Linked DNA regions of Homo sapiens: region 1 is linked to region 2. Evidence: fine-mapped expression QTL. A gene starts in region 2. The other region holds a variant in brackets. All regions are shown on one strand. Distances are from middle to middle.

Region 1 (11,607 bases), 57 kb after region 2:
CCTACCCCCTGGGGCAGCTGAGAAAAGGAGAGGACGCAGGTGAAGTCCTCCGCATGCCACCCAGTGACAGGCTGAAGCTCGGGAAGCACCTGCAGCTGCAGCTCTCGCGCTGGCCGTGCTGTCATGGGTGGGGAAGTGGGTGGGGGCATCTGTGGATGGAGACTGAACGGCTTCCCGCCACGAGTGTTCTGGCTGTGGTGAGGTGAGGTTGCTGTGACAGCACTGGCTGGCAGGCTTAGATGTGGGGAGTTGGTGCTGGAACATAAGTCACTGAACCCCATGATCCCTGGAGTGCGTATTCTTCAATGTTCCTGGACACGCCATGGTCGGGTGGGCAGTAGCTGCTCATTAGGTGCCCACCGTCCTGGTAAACATAAAAATGAAATTGCTGTTTCTTGAGTACCTGTTCTGACTGGTCCTGAGGCTACAGTCAAGGAGAAGTAAAGTGGTTGCCCTCTCACACCTTCCGCCAGCAGGACAGGGAGGGCACTTCATTTGCAGTGGGATGGCGAATGAAGCATGAATACCTGCATGGGTTCTCTGCTCTGCAGTTCGCAAAGTATCCCTGTGTATGTGAGAGCTGGGCATTCTTAGGCTTTTCGGGTCTCCCTCAGCCTTTCCCTGTGCTTTGCTCTGGCTCGGTGACCACCCAGCAACCATTTCAGCCCAGTCACTTCTACACTCAGTCTTTTGGGGCTGGGATGGAGATTGACGGTGGGTGGGGGAGGCTGTTACTTTGGACCTGATTTTCTAGGAGTTGCTGAAGATGCAACGGGGTGTCACAAGATCCATCCACCCACCACCCACCCACCCACCTATTCATCCACCCACCCATTCATTCATCCATACACCCACCCACCCATCCTTCCACCCATCCACTGTTCACCATCCACCCATCCATCTATCCACCCATTCATTCACCACCGACCATCCACCTACCCACCCACCCATCTATTCATCCACTCACCCACCCACCCATCCACCTACCCACCATCCACTATTCACCATCTACCCATCCATCCATCCACCCATTCATTCACCACCTAACATCCACCCACCCATCTGTTCATCCATCCACCCACCTACCCATCCATCCACTATTCACCATCCACCCATCCATCCATCTACCCATTCATTCACCCATCCATCCACCACCCATCATCCACCCATCCATCCACCCACCGACCCACTCATCCATCCACCCACCCACCCATCCATCCACCCATCCACTATTCACCATCCACCCATCCATCCATCTACCTATTCACTCATCACTCTCCATCCACCCCCCCACCCACTCACCCATCTGTCCACCCACCATTCATCTATCCACCCATCCACCTATTCACCATCCACTATCCACCCATACAAAATCCACCACCTACCCATCCATCATGCAGTATCCATCAGTCACCATCCACCTACCCATCTACTATCCACCCATCCACCACCCACCACTTACCATTCACCCATTCACTTATCCACCCATCCATCCAATCATCCATCCCATCCACCCATTCACTATCCACCATCCACCTCAACTGCCACTCACCTATCTACCATCCACCACCCACTCACCACCCACCATGACCCACCATTTGCCATCTACCCATCCATCCATTCTATAAATAATTAGTAAGCACTTAATGCATGCTAGGTATTATTTTAGGCACCAGTAAGACAATCATGGGAAAAAAAGACAGACAACCCCCGCCCCTCCCATCCTCAGGGAGCTCTATTCCAGTGAGAACAATTAATGTGCTAGATTGTGAGGTCATCAGTGCTGCTGCCCGTGTAAGACTGAGGTTCCCAGGCCCGAGACCAGCCTGGCCAGGGCTCCCAGGGTCTCCTGGTGGGGACTCTCAGGAGTCCAGCTGCTGCCCCTCAGCTGAGCACCTGGCATGGACAATGCCTGGTAAATGCTTGCTATGTGAGGGCACCTGCCCACGTTGAATCCACACAGCCTCTGGGCCACAGGGGTCCTGCTCCTTAGCAAGCCTCTCTGTGCCCTCCATGCTGGCCCTGCATCCCCTGGCACACCCCCCACCATTGTCAATGTCCTTCTTGTGCAGCTGGCCTCGGTCCCTCCTCTCTCCCTCCTGCTCCCCGCAGGCCCACGCAGCCTCCGCGCACTGTGGGTGGTGAGAATATGTGGTTAACAGGTTGACTAACCCAATCCCCGCAAGGCAGGGGAAGGCTGCTCCAGTAAATTTCCAAATGTGTCCGGGCTGACAATTTTGGTTTCCTCTCAAGCAGTGAGTGCATGGAGCCCGGCCGGGAGGGAAGTGTTCAGGGGCCCGAAGCCACCTTGGAGGGCTGGTCCTGACTGTGGTCTTGCCTCCCTCCTGGGCAGCCGGGAAGTGTGGGCCCTGGTGTTTCTGCTTTGGAAGATCCTCCCCATCCGCCAGCACCCTGGGGCCCTCAGCCCCGCCCCTCAGCTGCCCCCAGCCGGTCTCTGCGCCTGGACCCTCCGGACGGTTCCCTGCTGTCTGCCAGTCACCAGACACTGGGTTGGCTCTCATGCACACAGGGCGGGAGATCCTGGCTCTCACTCTCTCTGTGTTAGCAAATATTTTTCTGAACTCCAATTTTCCTTCCTGCTCCTGCGCCAGGCCCCTCAGAGCAAAGGCGGCCACCCAGGTAGATCCCTGGGCCTGGGCCACGTGGCCCTCTCAGCTCCTCTGAGGGTATGTCTTTCCTGCCCCCAAACAGTGAACAAAACACAAATCACCCTCCCCGTGTGACATCACAAGCTGGTCTGCGATGGACCTCGTGATGATCTGAGTCTGTCCCCTCTCCCTGCTTCCTGGGTTTCCTCGGCTCAGAAAATAGCAGTTTCAGGCTGCTTTTTTCTCCTCTTAGATTTGAGTGTTTGTAATTTTTCTTCAAGCTGAATCTCAATTTACTTGGGAGCTACTTATCTTCCCTCCAGGTCTCCTCTGTCTCCCGGCCGTCCCCTTGCCCCAGCAAACAACCGCAGCGCCACCCCCTGCGTCCTCGGCAGGTTTTGCTCGTGACCTGTCTGTTGTCTTCCAGATCATTAGCTTGGATATTAAACAAAACTGGGGCCTTGCAGTGGCCCAGGAGGCCTCCCACGAGATGCCCCCGCCTGCCCGATACGCTGACATCTGCCGTTAGCCTTTGTTTATGGCTGTCCAGCCTCCCTCAGCCTGTGCCTGTGTTGATACCAGAGCCAATCTAGTCCAATTTCACACAGAACATTTCTTCAGACTCGTTTCTTCGGCCTCACCAACAGCCGCTAATTTGGTGGCACCTATGAAAATGGGCTGGGGATCCGCAGCTGTCACTTGGTCCTTGCCACTCTTCCCCCCTTTCCCCCCACCACCGCCGGGCTCCCACGGCCCCAGACGTGGTCTCTTTGGAAATGTTCCATCATCTCAGAGACTGCAGCTGTGGGATGGGGGCTTGGCTGTGAGTAGACTGGACTTGGGTTTTCTCGGGGTTTGGAGGGTGGCCCTTGTTGGCTTCTCCATGGCTGGGTGGGTGGGCAGGGGTAACAGACCAGATAGAGACTAACAGTCCAGGGCCTGGGGCCACACTGCCTGGATTGGAATTCCAGGCTACCTGCTCATTCTCTGGGCAATTTCTTTCCTTTCCTTTCCTTTTTTTTTTTTTTTTTTTTTTTTGAGACAGTGTCTCACTCTGTCACCCAGGCTGGAGTGCAGTGGTGCGACCTCGGCTCATTGCAACCTCTGCCTCCTGCTTCAGCCTCCCGAGTAGCTGGGATTACAGGTGTCCACCACCATGCCTGGCTAATTTTTATATTTTTTGGTAAAGATGGAGTTTCACCATGTTGCCCAGGCTGGTCTTGAACTCCTGACCTCAAATGATCCACCATCCTCGGCCTCCCAAAGTGCTGGAATTATAGGCATGAGCCACCATGACTAGCCTTGTCAGTTTCTCAGTAGAGTTCTTTGGGGACCATGGAGACAGACGTGGAAAGCCCTGAGCACCAGCTGGACACAGGGTGAACCCCTGGGCAGCAGCAACCCCTGCTAGTGAGGAGTCCTTGATTCTGTCCCCTTCCCCACGCTCCCCTTCGGTGGACTCTGTGCCTCCAGAAAGTCCCTCCCTTCCTAGGAATTTTGCCATCTCAAGACGTTGATAGATGTGCTGCCTTCTCAGATATTTGCTTATTTTGCCTTTTGCCAGTAAATATTTTGCCCGTCTTTTCTTCCTAGTTCATATATTTTCATTACTGACAAAGTTATTAAATTAGTTCGAGTCTTTTAAGTAGCCGTTAATTTCACATCAGCCCTAATTTGTGTACTTGATTTCCTCTCCCCACCCACTCTGGATGTGGTTACAGCTCCTCCTCCTGTCGCTCATTTGTGTTAAAATCAACACTTCCTCCCCAACAGCTCCCTGTAAGCCTTCCTGTGGGCGGCCTGGGCAGAGCTACCTCCATCAACCCTGTTTCCAGCATGGTCTGTCCCCTCCTCGGCCCTTCAAATGCTTTACGGAGCCACACGGGCACTCCTCCTCCTGCCACCGAATGGAACTGCTGTCTATTTTGCCTTATGTCCTGACGTCCCCTTCCTGTATTCATTTCTTTGGGTTCCCAGGACC[T/G]AAGCCAGTGCCCTGCCCAGAGTAAGTGCTCACTGGTGTTTGAGGGGTCAGCAGGGAGGGAGGAGTGGAGACCAGCTTGGTTTGGAAAACTTGGTCTTCTCTAGGCCTGGCTGGTAGCAGGTGTGAGACCTTGGGTAAACTGCTCTCCTGATCCTGGTCTTTGCTTCCCCGTCTGTAAAGTGGAGGAATTGCGTCTGGATGATTGCAAGTATGCTTTCCCGCTCTGACATTCTAGAATCTTCCATTTCTTTTGCTCTGTGGGCATTGATTCATCTTTCCAATGGGGCCTGTCTTCACTGTATGGTATTGGGTTTTGGTGACATTGTTGTAGTTGGAGTTCTGGGATAATGTAATTGTTGTCATTGTTGCCAACACCATTGCTGCTGCCACTGCCTTCTACCACCACCATCACCACTATCATCATCATCACCACCGTTACCATCACCACCATCATTACTATCATCATCGTCACCATCACCACCGTCATCACCATCACTGCCATTATCACCATTACCATCGCCATCACCACCACCACTACTATCATAATCACCATCACTGCCATCATCACCATTGCCACCACTATCACCACCATCACCACCATCATGACTATCATCACCATCACCACCACCACCACCACCATCACTGACATAATCACCATTACCACCACCACCGCCATCACCACCATTATCATTGTCATCATCATCATCACTACCACCACAACTACCATCATCACCACCATCACCACCACCACAACTACCATCACCACCACCATCACCACCACCACCACCACTGTCATCACCACCATTATCATTGTCATCATCATCATCACTACCACCACAACTACCATCATCACCACCATCACCACCACCACAACTACCATCATCACCACCATCACCACCACCACAACTACCATCATCACCACCATCACCACCACCACAACTACCATCATCACCACCATCACCACCACCACAACTACCATCATCACCACCATCACCACCACTACCACCACCACCATGGCCATCACTATCACCACTTCCCGAGTGCTTACCATGGGCCAGGCATTGTGCTGGGTATGTGATAGCTATCACCCATGTGATTTTTACAGTCATCCATTGGGGATATGGATACTCTTCTCCCTATTTCACAGGTGAAACATCTGAGGCACAGAGAAACTATTTGCCTTGGGTCCCACAGCTAGTGGTGGCAGATCTGATTCCAACTCAAGTCTGCCTGACACTCAAGCCTGTGTTCTGGCTGCCCTGCCCTGTGGACCCTCTTTGTTCCCCTCAGGCTGGTTTCCTTTGCTTTTTGTGACTGTACATTTTAGCTGTTCATGAGGCTGAGTTCTGTCCGTTGATGTTCTATGGTTTGGAGAAGTCTTTAGCTTCTCTAAGCCCGGGTCTTCTATTCCATAAAAGAGGGAGAGGAAACCCCACCTCATGGTGGTGTCTGAGGATTAAAAAAGTTATGCTCATCAGAACCTAACACAGAGCCTGGAATAGAATTAATATTCAAATATTGGTTTTAGAGTTATAATGATTGTATATTACATCAAAATTACTATCCACCCTGTAATTTTTCCCACAAATGTATATTGAAAACCTTCCATGTGTGAGACCCTGTGTTAGGTGCTAGACATCCAGAACTGAGCAGGACGTGGTCCCCACCTCCTAGGAGCCCAGCCTGCTGGGGAAGGCAAAGTGGAAACAGCACAGCACAATGAAGTCAGGCTCACAGCGGGGTGCGAAGCACCCACGAAGAAAGGGCCAGCAGGGCCAGGTCGGGGGTGACTGTGAGTGAAGATGGAGAGGGCCAGGTGAGGGGTGACTGTGAGTGAAGATGGAGAGGGCCAGGTGAGGGGTGACTGTGAGTGAGGATGGAGAGGGCCAGGTGAGGGGTGACTGTGAGTGAGGATGGAGAGGGCCAGGTGAGGGGTGACTGTGAGTGAGGATGGAGAGGGCCAGGTGAGGGGTGACTGTGAGTGAGGATGGAGAGGATGCACAGCCTTAAATTCACAGCCAATAAAAATGAGAGAACAAAAGTAACTCAGTTAAGCTTATGATTCAAAAAAGTTAGAAAAAGGACAAAAAATAATGCACTGAAGAAAAGTAGAAGGAAGCCATTAATGAACTAATATAATAATAATGGGCCACAAAATAGAAAAATGGGACTAGTAAATAAAAGCTGTTTTCTGGAAAAAGTTAGATGAACCACTAACAAACATAGTCAAGGTTAGAAGTCAAGAAAGCAGCCAGGCACAGTGGCTCACGCCTGTAATCCCAGCATTTTGGGAGGCCGAGGCGGGTGGATTGCCTGAGGTTGGGAATTTGAGACCAATCTGGCCAACGTGGTGAAACCCTATCTCTACTAAAAATACAAAAATTAGCCAGGATGTGGTGGTGGGTGCCTATAATCCCAGCTACTTGGGAGGCTGAGGCAGGAGAATCGCTTGCACCCAGGAGGCAGAGGTTGTGGTGAGCCAAGATCGCACCACTGCACTCCAGCCTGGGCAACAGAGAGAGAGAGAGAGAGACTCTGTCTCAAAAACGAAAACAAACAAACAAAAAAACCCCAAGAAAACCCAAGGAACACATAATGAGGAATAATAAGGGAGAAATATAATTTACCAAACTGATCAATTTGTATGGAAGATAGAAAGTTTCTAAGCTACTCTCACACAAAGCTTGTGGTCTGAATGGTTCCACAGGGGAATTTGAACAAAACCTTTAAAGAGCAGGTGCTTCCAATGCTAATTAAAGTGTTCCACAGCAAAGATAAAGAAGAAAAAGTCTAAGTAATTTTCCTAAAGTGAGAATAAAATTTTTTTTACCTGACAAATATTGTACAAAAATAAAACTACAGGCCAGTCTCACTTATAAATATCAATGCAAAAATTTAAATAACAGATTACCAAATAGGATCCAAGCATCATCTTAAAATAATAATACCCTGTGTTTACTTGGAGTTTATTCTAGCAATGCAAGAATGGTTTAATAGGAAGAAATCTGTTTATATAATGCATCATATTAATATAAAGAGAATTAACACACGATTATCTTTTTTAACACTGAAAAAGCATTAACAAAATTCAGCATCCATTCTTGATAAACATTCAGCAAAACATAAATTGATACTTTCTTAACGTGACTGTAATCATATTCAAAACTCATTTTTTTCTTAATGTGGAAACACTGAAGTTAAGAAAAAAGCAAGGATGCCTACTCTTGCTACTACTATTTCATATTGTAGCAGAAGCATTAGCCAATGCAATCAGACAAGAAAAGAAATGAGAAGAATAAATATTGGAAAGGAGGGGCTAAAAGTATTACCCTTTTTTAGATGATATAATTGTATACTTGGAAAATCCTAGAGAATCCATGAAAAACTACTACAACCAACAAGGTAATCCTATGTATGCATGTATGCATGTCCATATGTATATATGTATCTGTCTTACAACAGTAATATAATGGGAGAAAAGGCCCCTATTTATGATAACAAAAATAAAATATCTAGGAATAAACTTAACAAGAAATGTGCAAAATGCATGTGCAAAAAACTTAAGAATCCTGAAGAACATTTTTTACACCTCGATAAACTCCAAATGGAGCCAAGCCTTAAAGTCAGCAAATATTTCTTGAATTACAATGGAATCATTATAATTCAAGAAATATTTGCTGACTTGAGCGCTTTCCATACACCAGGCCCTGTTCAGGCCCTGGTGATACAACAGTGAACAAAACAGATAGAAATTCCTTCCCCACTGGAGCTTGCATTCTAGGTGGGAAACGAATAAGAAAATTGTGTTGTAACTTAGATAATGATATTCTTATGGCAAATTATGCTGCTGGGAGAGGAGTCAGGGTGAGGTTGCAGTGTGAAGAGTGGGGGCCATGAAAGGCTTTGCTGATGTGTGATGTTTAAGCCATTATTTTAAGTCATTTATTGTTTAACTTTTCATGTGTTTATTTTGCAACCTAAACTAGCTCAGAAGCTCCCTGCATTTTCCATAGCATACAGGCCTATAGTAAGGTTTCAATACATTAATTTGTTTAAATTATCAAATTTTGAAGATTTGAATTTTTCTTTTACTATGCCATATTCTCTGTATTTAATCTTGGTCTTCTAGGGTCTTTCCATTCTGCTACCCACAAAACCTTGTTTTTCTGGAATGGAAAGCCTCCAAAACTCTTATTGTTCAAAATATTGTCCTTGGACCAACGTCAGCATCATGTAAGGGCTTATTAGAAATACAAATGTTTGAGTCCTCCCCTATGCCTACTGAATTTTAGGATCTGCATTTTAAACAAAATTTTTGGGTGCTTTGTATGCATATTATATTAGTCCATTTGCATTGCTCTAAAGGAATACTCGAGGCTGAGTAATTTATAAAGAACAGAGGTTTATTTGGCCATGAGCAGGCTGTACATGAAGCGTAGTGTTGGCATCTGTTTCTAGTGAGGGCTGCAAGAAGCTTACAATCACAGCGGAAGGTGAAGGGGAGCCAGAGTGTCACATGGTGAGAGAGGAAGCAAGACCATGAGGAGAAAGTTCCAGGCTCTTTTAAACAGCCACATCTCATGTGAACTCACAGAGCAAGAACTCACTTGTTACCAGGAGGTTGGCACCAAGCCATTCATGAGGGATCCGCCCCCATGACCCAAATGGAGGATGGCACCAAGACGTTCATGAGGGATCCACCTACCTATCTATCCACCTTCCATCTGCCCATCCATCCACCCACCCACCCGTCCATCCATCCACCCATCCACCTACCCGTCCATCCACCCACCCGTCCATCCACCCATCTTTTCATCCATCTACCTATTCAACCAGGCATCCATCCACCGACCCATCTATCCACCCATCCATCCACTTATTCCACCAGGCCCCACCTCCAACATTGGGGATTGCATTTCAACATGAGATTTGGAGGGGACAAATATCCAAATTATACTACATGTTAAAGTTGAAAAGCATTTTCCTAGCCCCTGGCTTTGCAAGTTCCCTTCTTGTTCAGCAGAAACCAGGGGCTGGGGGAGAGGGGAATCGCCCTGCTCATGTTGGTGTCAGCTTCTCACAGAGTCATCTCTTCTAACTGGCCTTGCATAGCCTGGATTCCCAAGGGCCTCCCAGGAAGTACCAGCAAGGTGTGTTGAAAAACTCTAGAACTGTTCTGTTCAATGCAGCAACTACTAGTTGCATGCGACTATTTAAATAAAATTTCTTTTGTTCAGATATACTAGTTACATTTCAAGTGTTCAGTAGCCACATGGGGCTAGCGGCTACCACACTGGACAGTGCAGGTATAAAGCATTCTTGTCCTCACAGAAAGTTCTATTGGATGGCACTGATGTAGAATATACCAAGTCCTAGATTTTGAGAATTTTTGAATTGCAAAGTCAAATTATTTCTGTCCATTTGCTTCCATTTATTTCAACAGAGTATCATCCAGCTGTCTGTCCATAAATCAACCCACTCACTGACCATCCATCCATCCACCCACCCACGCATTCATCCACACAGCCACCTATCCGCTTATCCATTCTTCCATCCACTCATCCATCCTTCCATCCACTCATCCATCTACCCATCCACCTACCTATCCATCCGTCTTTTAATCCATCTATTCTTCCATCTGCCCACCCATCTATCCACCCATCATCTGTCCACTCATCCATCTATTCATCCACTTAGTCATTTTGTCATTCCGTCATTCCGTAAATGATTATAGCATGTAGTGGTACTTTGAAAAATACTTATTAAATAAACCATAGAATGGTCTATGTGTCCTCCATCCCAGGCTTGGGTACTAGACGTGTGTGTGTGATGTACTTCCTTACCATGAGCTTGTGGACCTGCATCTGGACTTTCTCCCTGATGTCTGGGCCCCCTTTTACTGTACCAGTTTAGCCTTCCTTGCACCGTAATCTCTCAATTCCATGATTTCTCCTGCCTGAGCTGGTTAATACACTGGCTCCCATGGAACAGGTCTGGCTTCATGGAGCTGCCCCTTTTACATCAAAGCTACATAAGCTTTGAGGGTGATGCCCCTGGGAGCTGGGATGCCCTCGGGCCCTCTTGTTTCCCTGGGCTCAGTGCTCTTTTTCCCCAAGTCCCTGTGTTCCTGCCTGACCTCTCCTATTTGTGTTCAGGTTCACAGGCCTGACAGGGCCCTGGCTGGGGAAGTTGTCCCGGTGTAGACCTCAGAAAATGGAGGAAGATGGTCCCAACAGGGAGCAATTGACTCAGGGATGCGTGAGAGCTCTGGATGGTGCCCGGCACGGCTGGTCAGCATGCCCACGTCCTGCCCTACAAGTTAGCTGTCCACGTTTTTTTTTGGTGTGTGTGGTCTTCCCAGAACATGAAGGTTTTTTAGGTAAACTGCTTCATCCATCATATCACTAAAGCCTGGAGTTTTCTCACTTTTTATGACGATTCGACATTCTTGATTGAACGTTAGCTCTGACCAGGCTGAGGCCTGTGACCACAGCTGCTGAGCCCTCTCCATTGTGATATTTGGCCCCATGGTGACAGTCAGATTCCTTTCCCAGAGGGACAGGGCATGAGGCTCACACTGGGGAGCAGCACCTGCTGTGCCTTCCTTTGTCTCCTTCCCCAGTGCCCACAGGAAGGCCTCAGGCCTGCCCCACTGAGGGCCCCCATCATCCTGGGTGTCCCCAGAGCCCCGCTTTGGGTGGGAGGCTGGAATCACCACCCCACTTTGACACAGACACAAATCATTGTTATGATCCTTAAAGATGTTTTTGGTTCTCTAACCCTGGTATCAGATTCACTTGCTCTCACGTCTCTGCAGAAACATTAGCTTTGCCGCCTCAAAGCTGCAGTTGGCTCTAATTACTATGGAGCTGCATCCCTCTCCCTGTCTCTAGTGGAAAAAGGGAGGCCATCTGCTCATTCCTGGGGTTGTGCCGGACGGATGAGCCCCAGAGGAGTGGGCTGGGACCAGCCAGGGGGCGGAGCTTCTCTGCTGTAGGCTCCTACCTGCAGGCTGAG
Region 2 (11,607 bases):
GAGATGGAAGACGGGGAAGAACCTGTGGGCCCCTGAGTGGACTGCGGCGCCTGTTCCCGGAGACACTGGCCACTGCCCCGGCTGCAGAAATTGACGGTGCCTCAGAAAACCTTTGCTATTTCCACTTGTGTGTTTTTTAGGCTATCGCCGCTCCCCAAACACAGCTGTGTCATCAAGCAGCACAAAAACAGTAAATCCTTGTGGTGTGGACGTGGGACCCTGAACTACCTGGACTTCCCTCTGACATTTCCCATCCACGTGGGAGGAGAGACGGACGGCGTGCAAGTGGTTCATCCTCCTCTGGAGAAGATAAATGTCAGAACTGAAAGCCACTGGGCACTGATATGGAGTCGCACACTCTTAAATAAAATATCAAGCCTGGAGGTGCACATGTGACATCGCAGATGCGCTTGCTGCTCCCTGCATGTGACACAAGAGGCGGCGGGGCAGTGGGGCTGGCGCAGTAGGCAGCATCCCAGGCCAGGACCCAGAGCTGCTGGCGAGCCACGGGACATTCTGGGCCTCAGTGTTCTCATCTGTGATATGGGCGGACTGTGCAACATGACCTCTGAAGTTGCTTTCAGCTCAAAATGCGGGGATGACTTCCACGACAGTGAGACCACTGGAGGGATGAGCTCATTGGGGAGAAAAATAGGATCACCTGGGAAAATGGGACGCTGGTGTTTAGGGAGAAGCAGAGAAAGACAGGTGGAGATGCTGACGTGCAACCTCGGGAGAGAAGAGTGGGAGACGGTGCTGTGGTGGAGGATGAAGTCGAGGTTTCTAGAAAGGGACTTGGCCACGGGGCCACCTGCAGTAAAGGATCAAGTAAACCAAGGAGGGAGTGCAGGCCTGGCTGTTTGTGATTCAGCCTTCCCTGGTGACCCGAGAGAGCCATTTCCCTGGGGTGTCCGTGGGTGTGGACGTGGAGGTAGGGATGCTTGTGATCGAGGGAAGGCGAGGATGGAAGGGGAACGAGGGGAGAGAAGAGCATCTAGGGGTGCTTCTGGAAGGATGGGGAAGACCAGATAAGGTTTTTAGGCTGGTAGGCTAAGACCCCCCCATCCCCAGAGCAGGAAAGACAGAAGAGGATAGAGCAAGAGAGGGCTGGATGGAGGGAGAAAACGGAAGAAGAATTTGAAAGGGAGCAGGAAGACAAGATGAAACTAGAAGGAGGCGTGCAGGGAGAAAGCTGCTCCCACTGAAGGCTCTAGCTTCAAGGTGAAACTGTGCCACCATCTGCCAGGAAAAAAGGGTCAGGAGAAAGAGGGATGATAAACCTTGGGACTGAAGTGAAGAGCGGAGAGCCAGCCGGCGGACACAGCTGAGGCTGAGGCTGGGTGTGTGAGGGCCGAACACCTCTCTTCCAGCTATGGGACAGAGCACAGCCCGGCCCTGTGACGTCTTCATTTAAGTTAGCTGGTTGGCGTCTCTGACCTCCAAGGTCTCCTTGTGACCTACATTCCATGGAGCCCGGACAGGTGCACAACCCCTGAGAGCCCACACAGTATAAATGTTTGCACATCTGCCCCGCGTGTTTCGTGAAACAGTAGTGGGGCGTTTTGATCATACATTCCCTCAGGTCGTGTGGGGCTCTCCCTAAGTGGTATTTATTGATGCAGGACTGCACAGGGTCCCACAGCGTGCTTGGATGGTGGCCTGAAGGGGAGATCCGACACATACAACAGCGGTAGCAGGCCTGGCAGTAGTGGGGAAGTAGTAACACGTGTGTGTGTGTGTGTGTGTGTGTGTTTGTATAGAGAGAGACAGAGAGATCCATTCTTTTTTTTTTTTTTCTTGAGATGGAGTCTTGCTCTGTCGCCCAAGCCGGAGTGCAGTGGTGTGATCTTGGCTCACTGCAATCTCCACCTCCCGGGTTCAAGTGACTCTCCTGCCTCAGCCTCCTGAGTAGCTGGGATTATAGGTGCCCTCCACTTCGCCCGGCTAATTTTTGTATTTTTAGTAGAGAGGGGGTTTCGCCATGTTGGCCAGGCTGGTCTTGAGCTCCTGACCTCAGGTGGTCCACCTGCCTCGGCCTCCCAAAGTGCTAGGAATACAGGTGTGAGCCACCGTGCCCGGCCGAGAGATCCATTCTTAACAAGGAGGTTACGACTACATAGAGTAACCTTATAATTTACTCTGTTGGACTGAGAAAGCAAGCAAGGCAGCCAATGGCGGTGACATCAGCTCTCCAACGGGCCGTCGGTGCTGGCCATCTGTGGACCTCACAAGAACGTCAAAGACCAGCAAGGAAAAAGCAGGCCCCTGATCTCTTGCTTTCCTCGATCCTTCTACAGTTGCATCTTCACCTCCTTTCTATCTGTGGATGTGTCCAGTGCTGAATATGAAAGTGGGGCCATGATGTCCTTTCTGTCTGTGATGATTTGGGTCTGCTACCCTTAGACGGAGGAGCCTGGGAGAAGACAATGTGAAACTCTGGAACCGCAGCTGCCCCACGCTTTACAAGAGCCTCTTTTAGGGAGTTCTTGGGCAAGGCATGAGGGGTCCTGGGGAACCAAGGGCCTCCTTGGCTGGGGCTTCTTGCAGGTTGGTGGGCTGATGTGTGTTTTCTGTTTCTTTGTTCCCTGTGGCCACCTCCTGATGCTAAGAGTAGATCAAAGTAAATGCTTCCATGGGGCGAAATGAGGGTCTTCAGCTTACACAGGTGGCAGTGCGTGGAAAGGAAAACAGGCACTCCACTGCAACACGGCCCGAGCCGGCCGGGCACAGAGGGGAGCAGGGGCCAGGCTCACCTGGCACTGAAAGGGTGGTACAATGGCAGGAGGCATCTTGGTAGTGACAGCCCTCTACATGTCTGAGCCCTAGGCAGCTGGACATGCCACCACCCTGCTCTCATCTGGACTGGCAACCTCTTGCCCGGTACACAGCTGCCCTCCTGCCCTCCCTCCTCTCCCACTATGTGGATCCCTGCCCGCTTACTAGATCCTCTGTTTCTTCCATCCCTCATTGCCCTCTTTCATGCTTTACACCCTTGTTTTGTTAGAGCACGTCCTCTGGTAGCTGAGAGATGGTGTGTGGGAAATAATTTTGTCGAGATCTCGCATGTGCAAATGTCTTTGTTTTAATCTCACGTTTGATTGTTAATTTTGTGAAGTAAGGGATTCCAGGCCAGAAATCACTTGCCATCAGCTTTTGAAGGCACGCTTTGTGATTGGTTAGCTGCCCTCTTTGTGTTGAGAATTCTGGAGCTATTCTCGTTCCTGCTCTTTTTTATGGCACCTGGAAACTTGGGGAAACATTTTTTTTTTTTCTTCAGTGATTTACTTTTCAAGATAATGTGCCTTGATATGAATCATTTCCATCGATTTTGTGGACAATTTGGAAACTTATTTCTGGAAAAAAATTCTTAAGTAATTGATGATTTCCTTTCTTCTCCTCCTCCTCCTTCTCTCTGGGGGCCCTATGGGGGTCGGGGTTAGAATTCCTTTTGTGTTGAGCCTCGTGAATTGATCATCTAGTTTTTTTTCATCCCCTCTTTCTTCTTTTTCTCCTCTTTGCCTTTTTGCTTTGCCTTCTGGGGCATTCCCTTACTTTTCTCTTCCAGCCTGTCTGTTGAGATGTTTTGTTTCTGCTCTCATGCTTTTAACTTCCCAGCTTTTTTGTTCTCTAAATGTTCTCCTTAAAATAGCACCCTGCTCTTGGTTCATGGATGCGGTATCTCCTCTGATCTCTGGGAGGATATTAAATACTGCTATTTCTGATGTTTTCTCCTCCCTGCCTAATATCTGTTTCCTCGAAGTCGGCCCCGCTCTGTTGCGTGTTTTGGCGGCTCCTTCTCATGAAGGCTTTCCGCAGGTGTCTGGTCATCCTTGGCTTTTTACTCACCTTAGGGGGGCTGCAAAGCTGGTTGGCAGCTCCGAGCAGGGAGTGGGGCCTGTGCTTGGAAGCAGCAAAGCTCTATCTTCAGGTTTCCCCTCTGGGTGCTGGTGAGATTCCCCAGAGGAGATTCTTCCGGCCTCCTGCCAGGAGGGTGGAGGTCAGGATGCTGACAGGTGCCGTGAGGGAAAAGGGGGGCTCTCCGTGCAGGACGCCCCTCTGTCCGCAGTGTCTGGCGGCCCCCAGGCCACAGAGGCTGCTTCAGTGTCCTCAGGGAATAAACCTCCAGAGGGGCTATCCGAGGATCTCCAGGCTTCCCCGGGTCTTGGGCCCCACGCCTTCTGAGCCTTCGGGGGATTCCATTGTCAGCCTTCCCTGCCTCTGGGCCGAGACTCAGCTCCGTGAGGGCGGGCCGCCACTTCTCCTGTGCCTCCCCGCTGCCCACAGCCGGCTACTGTTCTCTTTTCTCCTATTCTCCAGGTCGTTGGGGTTTATGCCTTTTTAAAGTTATTCTTATTTGAGATGGAAGTCTCACTCTTGTTGTCCAGGCTGGAGTAGTACAGTGGCGCGATCTCGGCTCTCTGCAACCTCCACCTCCCGGATTCAAGTGATTCTCCTGCCTCAGCCTCCCAAGTAATTGGGATTACAGGCACCCACAACCACACCTGGCTAGTTTTGCTATTTTTAGTAGAGACGGCGTTTCACCATGTTGGCCAGGCTGGTCTCGAACTCCTGACCTCAGGTGATCCACCCACCTCAGCCTCCCAAAGTGCTGGGATTACAGGCTTGAGCCACCATGCCCAGCCCCTTTTTAAAATTTTCTCTTTGTAGTTTTAGTGGGATTTTTCAGAGGGCACGAAATTAGCTCTGTGCCTTCAGTCGTCCTGTTGGCCCCAAGCCCAGTCTCCCTGTGTTTCTCTCCTAATGATTATTACCAAGGACTCCCCAGTCCTCCCCATGTGCTCACTTTTTAAAAATTAAAGTTTCCAAATCAGAGGTTTTAAAAATTCTCTTAGATGACGTCCCCAAATGGAAAATCTCCCGGTTAGTGCTGGTATGTCCTGCTGGCCCTGACACTTACTCTCTTCCGGCCAGATCCCTGTCTACGACAGCTGAGCACGAAGGGCAAACTCTCTGGGGCTGGTAATGAGGCCGGCCTGGCTGGGGCCTGTTCCCAAGGGGTGTCCTCACGCGCAGGCCCTGTGGCCAGTCCCAACCACAGAGGCCAATTTCAGTTTACCACCCGGGCGTCTGAGCAGGCCCACCGTGTCCTGAGTCCTGGGCTGGGACTGGTGGAACTTGGAACAAGATTTGGTGCTGTCTTCAGAGAGCTCTTCCAGAACGTCCCCAAGGAATGATTTACCGGGCCCTATGCTTTGCAGGGACCCCTCTTCCACTCGGGCACACAGCTCTGCCAGGTCAATGTGTCCCCACTTCACAGGCACATGCAGAACTCGCATGGGGAGCTGAAGGGAGACGGAGATGGGCTCGAATCCCACTCTTCGAGAGGTTTCTGCGAGGAGGCTCCAAAGGGCAGTAGGGTCTGGACCAGAGAGGAAAAGGCTCCCCAGGGAGAAGAAATGTGGGCAAGGGACAAGCGGGACCGACAGGGGGCACTGCCGGCACAGCGAGGCAAGAGCCCTGCCTGCAGGGAGACAGGTGCCTGCCAGGCAGTGGCTGGGCCCAGCCGGGAGTTGGAGGCCACGAAAGCCTGGACCATCTGACAGCAGAGAACCAAGAGGCCCAATTAGGGCTTTAGAGCTGGAATGCGCCATTTCAAATCCGGTGGCAGGGGAAAGTTCAGTCAACCAGGCGGCTGCCTTGCTCGTAGACACGGCATTTATCTGGTGGTTAGCTGTGGGGCTGTTTAGCTGTATGCTTGGAATTGTATAACACGATTCCCACCGGCCAAGACAGATCAATGACCCAGACGGGCTGGAGGGCCAGAAATTAAAAGCATGACGCTCATAAGTGGGCAGCGGCCACTGTCTTGGCCACCGTCTCTGCTGCCCTGCAGGGGGGGCAGCCAGCAGCCCAGAGCCCCTACTACCGAGAAGCTCCAAATCCATACTCCCCTCTTCCTGGCCTCTGGGTCTTCCAGGCCCCTACCAAACCCCAGATTCCATGATGTGCTTTTCACCTCACACAGAAAAGCAGGACAGTCAGGTGCGAGGAGGAGGCTAATTGTTCCAGGAGCAGCCTTCAGGAGCAAAAGTGACATGGGGACGGGTTTGGATCTGTTTGTGTGTAATTTGGAAATGTCCTTCGATGGTGCAGGCTCGTTTCTCCAGCCTGGTTGCTGCACCAGAATGTCTTTTGTTTTGGAAATGATTACTCAGCCTCCTGCCTAAACCTGTTTGGGACCGTCCAGACCTTCTTGCCCACTTCTGGTGTTGTGTGCCAGTGGTGGGCTGACCCCAGCAATAGATCTCTCCTGCCTTTCCAGAGGGTCCCCACTCCACTGTGTCCTCAGCCTCTGCTCTCCTGCTCCCTCTGCACCAAGGATAGAGACCCTCCCAGAACTCACACCAGGCCCCTTACTCTAGATGCTGGGGGAGGCTGGGACTGGGGACAGGAGCTACCTGATCTTTTGATTTTAGGGAAATCCTAAGCTGACCTCCCACAGTCCTTCCTCTCCAGCCAGGCACAGGTGGAAATGTTTAAATGGGTTGGGTTGGCCAATCTGGACTAACAGCACGGAGTGGGCCCGATCCCTTCCTTTCCAGTGGTCCTCCAGGAAGTCAGGGCACCTGGGCCTAGTGAGGGGGTTTGGGGTATGTGGGCAACTCAAAGGCATGGCATGGCATGCGGGGTGGGGTGGCATTCGTCCCTGATGCTTGGTGACCACGTCCCATTGCTGGGGATCCCTGGGCCTGGCAAAGAAAAATGGCCCCCAGGGACAGCGAGGCACAAGGGCAGGGGTCCTGTTAAGGGTCACCTGGGTTGATCCGCCCCCAAGATAGCTTGGAGGTGGGGAGGGGCAGCGGGCTTGGGGCTGCCCTTGAAGGGACCAGGGCAGCACTGGGTTCTGGGATCTTCCGTGTGTACCCCACCTCTTCTGTGCCCCTGCCCCGAGGAGTTGGCGCTGAAGGCTGCAGGGTGCTGACCGCCGAAGCCCACCCGGTCATGGCTCTCCCCGCTCCGCCGCCCTCCCCGGCCGCGCGACAGCCAGAGCCCCCTCCCATGCCGCGCGCTGCGCGCTCCGCTCGAGCTGCCACCGCCGCCCGCGCCGCCGCCGCGTGCTCCTGCTGCCGCCTCGCTCCAGCCGAACGAGCCAGAGGAACGAGAGAGAGAGAGAGAGAGAGAGAGAGAGAAGGAGGGCGGAGAGAGAGAGAGAGAGAGAGAGAGAGAGAGAGAGAGAGAGAGAAGGAGGGCGGAGAGAGGAGGGAGGAGAGAGAGAGAGAGAGGAGGCGAGGGAAGAGCGAGCGCGGGGCTGCTCCGAAGCCAGCAGAACCTCCTCGGACAGCGGCCCCAGCCGGGCCCCAGCAGCTCGCGTGGTCGGAGGAGAAGCAGCTGCCACAGCTGCCGCCCGAGCCCGGCCTCGCGCGCCCCTTGCCGCTGGCTCGCCGGTGCCTGTGCGGCCCCAGGACGCCGCTGCCCGCTCGGCGGCCGGGATGCAGCCGGGGCATGGCCGCCGGCCCCCAGTCACCTGCCGCGGGGAGCGCTGAGCCCGTGAGTAGCCTGGCCTCGTCGCCCGCCTCGCTCTGCGGCGGTCATTCCCATCGGGCTGAGCTGGGGGAGGGGGACATGGCCGCGGAGGGGCGCATGGGACCCCGCAGTGGGAGGCGGGCTGCTGAGCGCGGCCGGGGCTGACCCGAGGGCGCGTGGGGTGGGGTGGCGCCCTCGGGGTCAGGGGTCCCTGCGCGGGGTCGGGGTCCCTGGGTCCCTCCGGGGCTGGGGTCTGGACGCTCTGTCCGGCCGTGGGCCAGAGGGGCGATTTTGTGAATGGGAAGGCCCGGGGGTCGGGCTCCATGGAGACGCCAGGGAGTCCCGCGCGCTGCGTGGCGGTGGCAGTGGCGGTGGCGGTGGCGGTGGTGGTGGCTGTGGCGGCGGCGGCGGCGGCACAATGCCCGGCGCGGGGAACTCCCCGGCGGGGGGAGGCAGAGGCGCGCGGAGATCCCGGCCCCGCGGGGCGCGTCCGAGCAGGCAGCCGGAGCCCGCGCGGGTGGGAGAGAGGCTGGCGACCCGGCGGTGGTGCAACGTGCGTCTGTCGCGGCACCCAGGCCCGGAGAGAGCCCTGCCGGGGTCCTCTGAAAGGAGGGTCGCTGAGAGGTTGATGACCCAAAGGAGTTGTGGGGAGGAAGGGGCTGCCACAGCTCCCCAAATAGGAGCGGGGCCCGCAGCACCGCGGTGTGCGCGGGGGCCGAGCAGCGAGGGGCGAGCGGCGCGCAGGGCCCTACAGGGGGCGGGCTGGGGGCGCTCCGGGCCGAGTCCCCAAGCACGATAGGAAGGCTGGAACGGGAGCAGAGGCTGCCTCTCTGAAGCCTCGGCCACCCCCAGGGCCTCGAGCAGCGCGGCCGGGCTGGGAAAGCCGGGCACGCCCCTGGCCCAAACTTTCTGCCCTGGTGGCCCCGGGCGGTGGTGGGGCTCGCCCGGGGCGTGTTGGGCTCGCACGCTCGGGAAGGTGGTCTTCTGTGGCGTCTCGGGGTGGCGCGAGGCCAGTGGTCATTTTGGTGCTGGGGGTCGCAGCCTCCCTCCCCGGGACGCGGAGCCTCCCCTGGCGCGCAGCCCTGCAGTGTCGGTGCGGGGACCGAGACGCGGCGCCCCGCGTGGAGGGGCATTGGGAACCTGTCGGGTCCCCAAGCGGCCCTGGGATCCCTGGTATCACGTAGGGTGGGGGTGGGATGTTCCCGGAGTCCACTGGTGGGGGCGGGGGCCCAGCGAGGTGGGGAGAAACTCCTGGACAACAGAGCTGCCTCCCCCTCCCCTTTCCGTTCCAGCTTTGGCGAGGTACCTGATTTATTTAATGATCACTTTTAAAAAGGAGTCCCGCGGAGCCGCTAGTCCCGACGCGCGAGACACCCCACGGTGGAGGCTAAGGACAGAGACCCAAGGGATCCATCCCTGGGTTTAAGTCCCCCTTCCTGCCCCAGCTGGTGGTGAAGTCGCTTCTCGGGCGCGCAGGTTGCTAATTTCCTGCTCCAAACGCAGGTTGGACTCGGGGACGCCTTGGGCATGCACCCGGGCGCCCCGGGCACTTAGCGTGGAGCAGGTAGGAGGCTAATGGAGTGGGGTCGCCCGTAATGAGGTCTTTCAGCCGGAAGCCGGCTTCGGTTTTACTGGTCTGCAAAACATAATGGAAAAAAAAAGTATAAACATTGCGGCAGAACCTGCTCATTAAGTGTGCATCGCGGATTCGGGACGGATGTCTTAATTAGGCTGCGTTGTTCACGGGGATATTACACTAATTAAAAACCGACCCTCCAGGTGAGCAAAAATTGTGAGGGGAGAGAGGGAGAAAAGTTGTCGAGAAGGCGCTGCCTGATGAAAGCCGGGTATGGGCCTCTTGCAGGGGCGCCCCAGGTCACTGAGCGCCGGCGGGGTGGGGGCGTGGGGGCGGCATGGCGGGGGCGGAGGAGGGGAGCCTTCTTAGAACCATCCCGGCGCGCCTTCCTTCTCCGCCTCCTGCGGGCGAGGAGCTCCCTTTGGCCGAGGACCGAGGCTGGCCCCCCCGCCCCTCCCCCAGGACTGGAGGCCTTCCTGCGTGGGCGCCTCGCTCACCGCTCACCGCACACTCCTGGAAGCAACGCTTAACCCTTCATTTCCTGGCTGACAGCTTCTGGGAGGGCAAGGCTGTCCCCAGGAGGGAGACAGAGCGGGTGACGTGGGGACCACTGAAGGGGTTAAGGAGCAAGAAGCACGGTTGAAGGGACGCACCCAAGCCGAGACAGCCTGGGCCTGGCGAGGTGGCTGCGTGCGTGCGGCAGGGGTTGCCACTGGTGCTGGGCTGTTTGCGCTTGCACGGCCGGGGTTTTCTGGGGTGAGTTGTCCATTTCTAGCAGCTATCCACCCTCCTCCCCCCAAAGAAAAAAGGGAACCTGGGTGATTGCTTTGATCCACCTTCCTCAGGGGCCTGGGGCCTAGAGAGACCCGTGCCCACCCCGGGGACCTCGGGTCGCCTCTGGGTGCCAGGAGGAGCCAGGAGTCCAGGGAAGTCCCTAGGCTCCGCCCCTTACTCGGATGGGCCTTTGCGGCAAATGCTCCGCACCCAGTGACCTCGGTTGGGAGCCACAGCGGGGCTGGGAGTATTCACTGCCCTTCCGCAGGGACCAGAGGCGGATGTCGAGGGAAGGTGGCGGCATGGGCGGCCCCTGCCTCTGAGTGGCTCAGCAGGCACTCAGCGGGCGCCAGCACCAAGGACAGGGCCGGGGCCTCCACAGCCTGCCCTCCTCGCCCTCCCTCCTCTGACACGGTCCCAGGGCCGCTGGAGGCGCTGCGGGCGGCCGCCCTCAGGCTGCTGAGGACATGGGGAGGGCTCCCGAGGCTCATTCAAGAGCCAGAAAAGCCCAGGGCCTGCGAAGAGGTAATTACAGCAAGGAGGCCTCCTGGGTACCATTCCAGAGTGGGCCTTCTGTCCTGCGCCTGTCACTTACTCAACTTGGAGCGTGGCTGATGGCGCATCGGTGAAATGGAGAGATTATCGGGCTCTTTGGTGTCTAGGGATGAACTAGACACTGTAGTGGCCAGAGAAAATGCCATCTTCCCTGGCTGGTTCAGCCCTGTTGCCTCTCCCCTGCAGCCTTCTTTGACACCTCTCTCCCAGCCACATTCAGCCCTGGCCTAAGGCGCCTTCATACCGATGTGTGGCAGTTGGAGGTGCCTTGCTGCTGAGGGCAGGGGCCCTGCTTGGTTTATCTGCCCCCTCCCCCATATACGCAGATGGTGTTCTGACCCATGATGCCTGTGCAATTCGGAAGGAAGGAATGCATAAGTCACGCTCCTATCCCTCCCAGAAGCGCCAGAGTGGTGGTGGTAGGGGGTGGGGGGCAGTAAAGAGAGGAAAACATGTCAGTGGGCCAGAGCCACAGTGCTGAACGCGAAACTGCAATATTATTTTTCAGCCCTTGCAGGGTGGGGCTTCCCTCCTCTAGCCCAGCCCAGCCCAGAGCCTGCAAGTTTTGGTCGGTTGTCTCCCTGTGTTTATTTATTTCCACGCTCCTGCTTGATACTCTGTTATAAAGACAAATGGAACCTGACACGCAGCTGACATTTGGTGAGGAATTTTTTATTTTTAAACAAGTGAAGGGGAAGAAGCCATCTTGAAACTTTCTCCCCCTTCAACAGAGACCCGTTTGTTGGTTGGTAGGGAACCTACCATTCCCTAAATCCCTGCCTGCCACAGGCCCCTGCTCCTGGCACAAGGCACCGGCTTTATAAACACATCCCGTTTGTACCTCCACCCTTTGATAAGCTGCAGCATCTCTCCACGCTCTTTCATAAAGCAGCGCGGTATTTTCACAGGCTCATGAAACATTCAGGCAGCCTCAACATCTTACTTTCTGCTGCCTCTCTGAAGAAGGTTGCTCCCTGAGCCATCCCTGTCCTCTATAACGTCCTGGGTCTATCTCCCTGTCTCCCTGTCCGTCTATCTCTTCCTCTCCCCAACTCTTTTTTCCTCCTGTGCTTTCTGAGTGGCGCGGATGCTTAGTGTGTGATTGCCTCCTTGTGTGACCTGTGAGGGTTGAGGACGGCTCTTGGTTAACAGTTGCATGGCGGGCATGCAAGGAGCATTGCACACATACATATGCTGTGCATACCCGGCGGGGCCTG

What was found. PIP is the estimated chance that this variant, and not a neighbour inherited with it, causes the effect.
Region 1: its variant is fine-mapped to the expression of RBFOX3 in blood mononuclear cells (TOPMed, PIP above 0.99).

Annotation. Positions count from the first base shown.
Region 1 is chr17:79,549,266-79,560,872 of GRCh38, reverse strand. The region is part of intron 1 of RBFOX3 (RNA binding fox-1 homolog 3); the gene reads left to right. Among named protein-coding and RNA genes, the nearest start is that of RBFOX3, 56 kb to the left of the region's middle. The variant T/G (reference allele first, on the strand shown) is at 4,591.
Region 2 is chr17:79,606,728-79,618,334 of GRCh38, reverse strand. It overlaps RBFOX3 (RNA binding fox-1 homolog 3), which reads left to right and starts at 7,284. Exons shown (of 15, transcript NM_001350451.2): 1 at 7,284-7,509.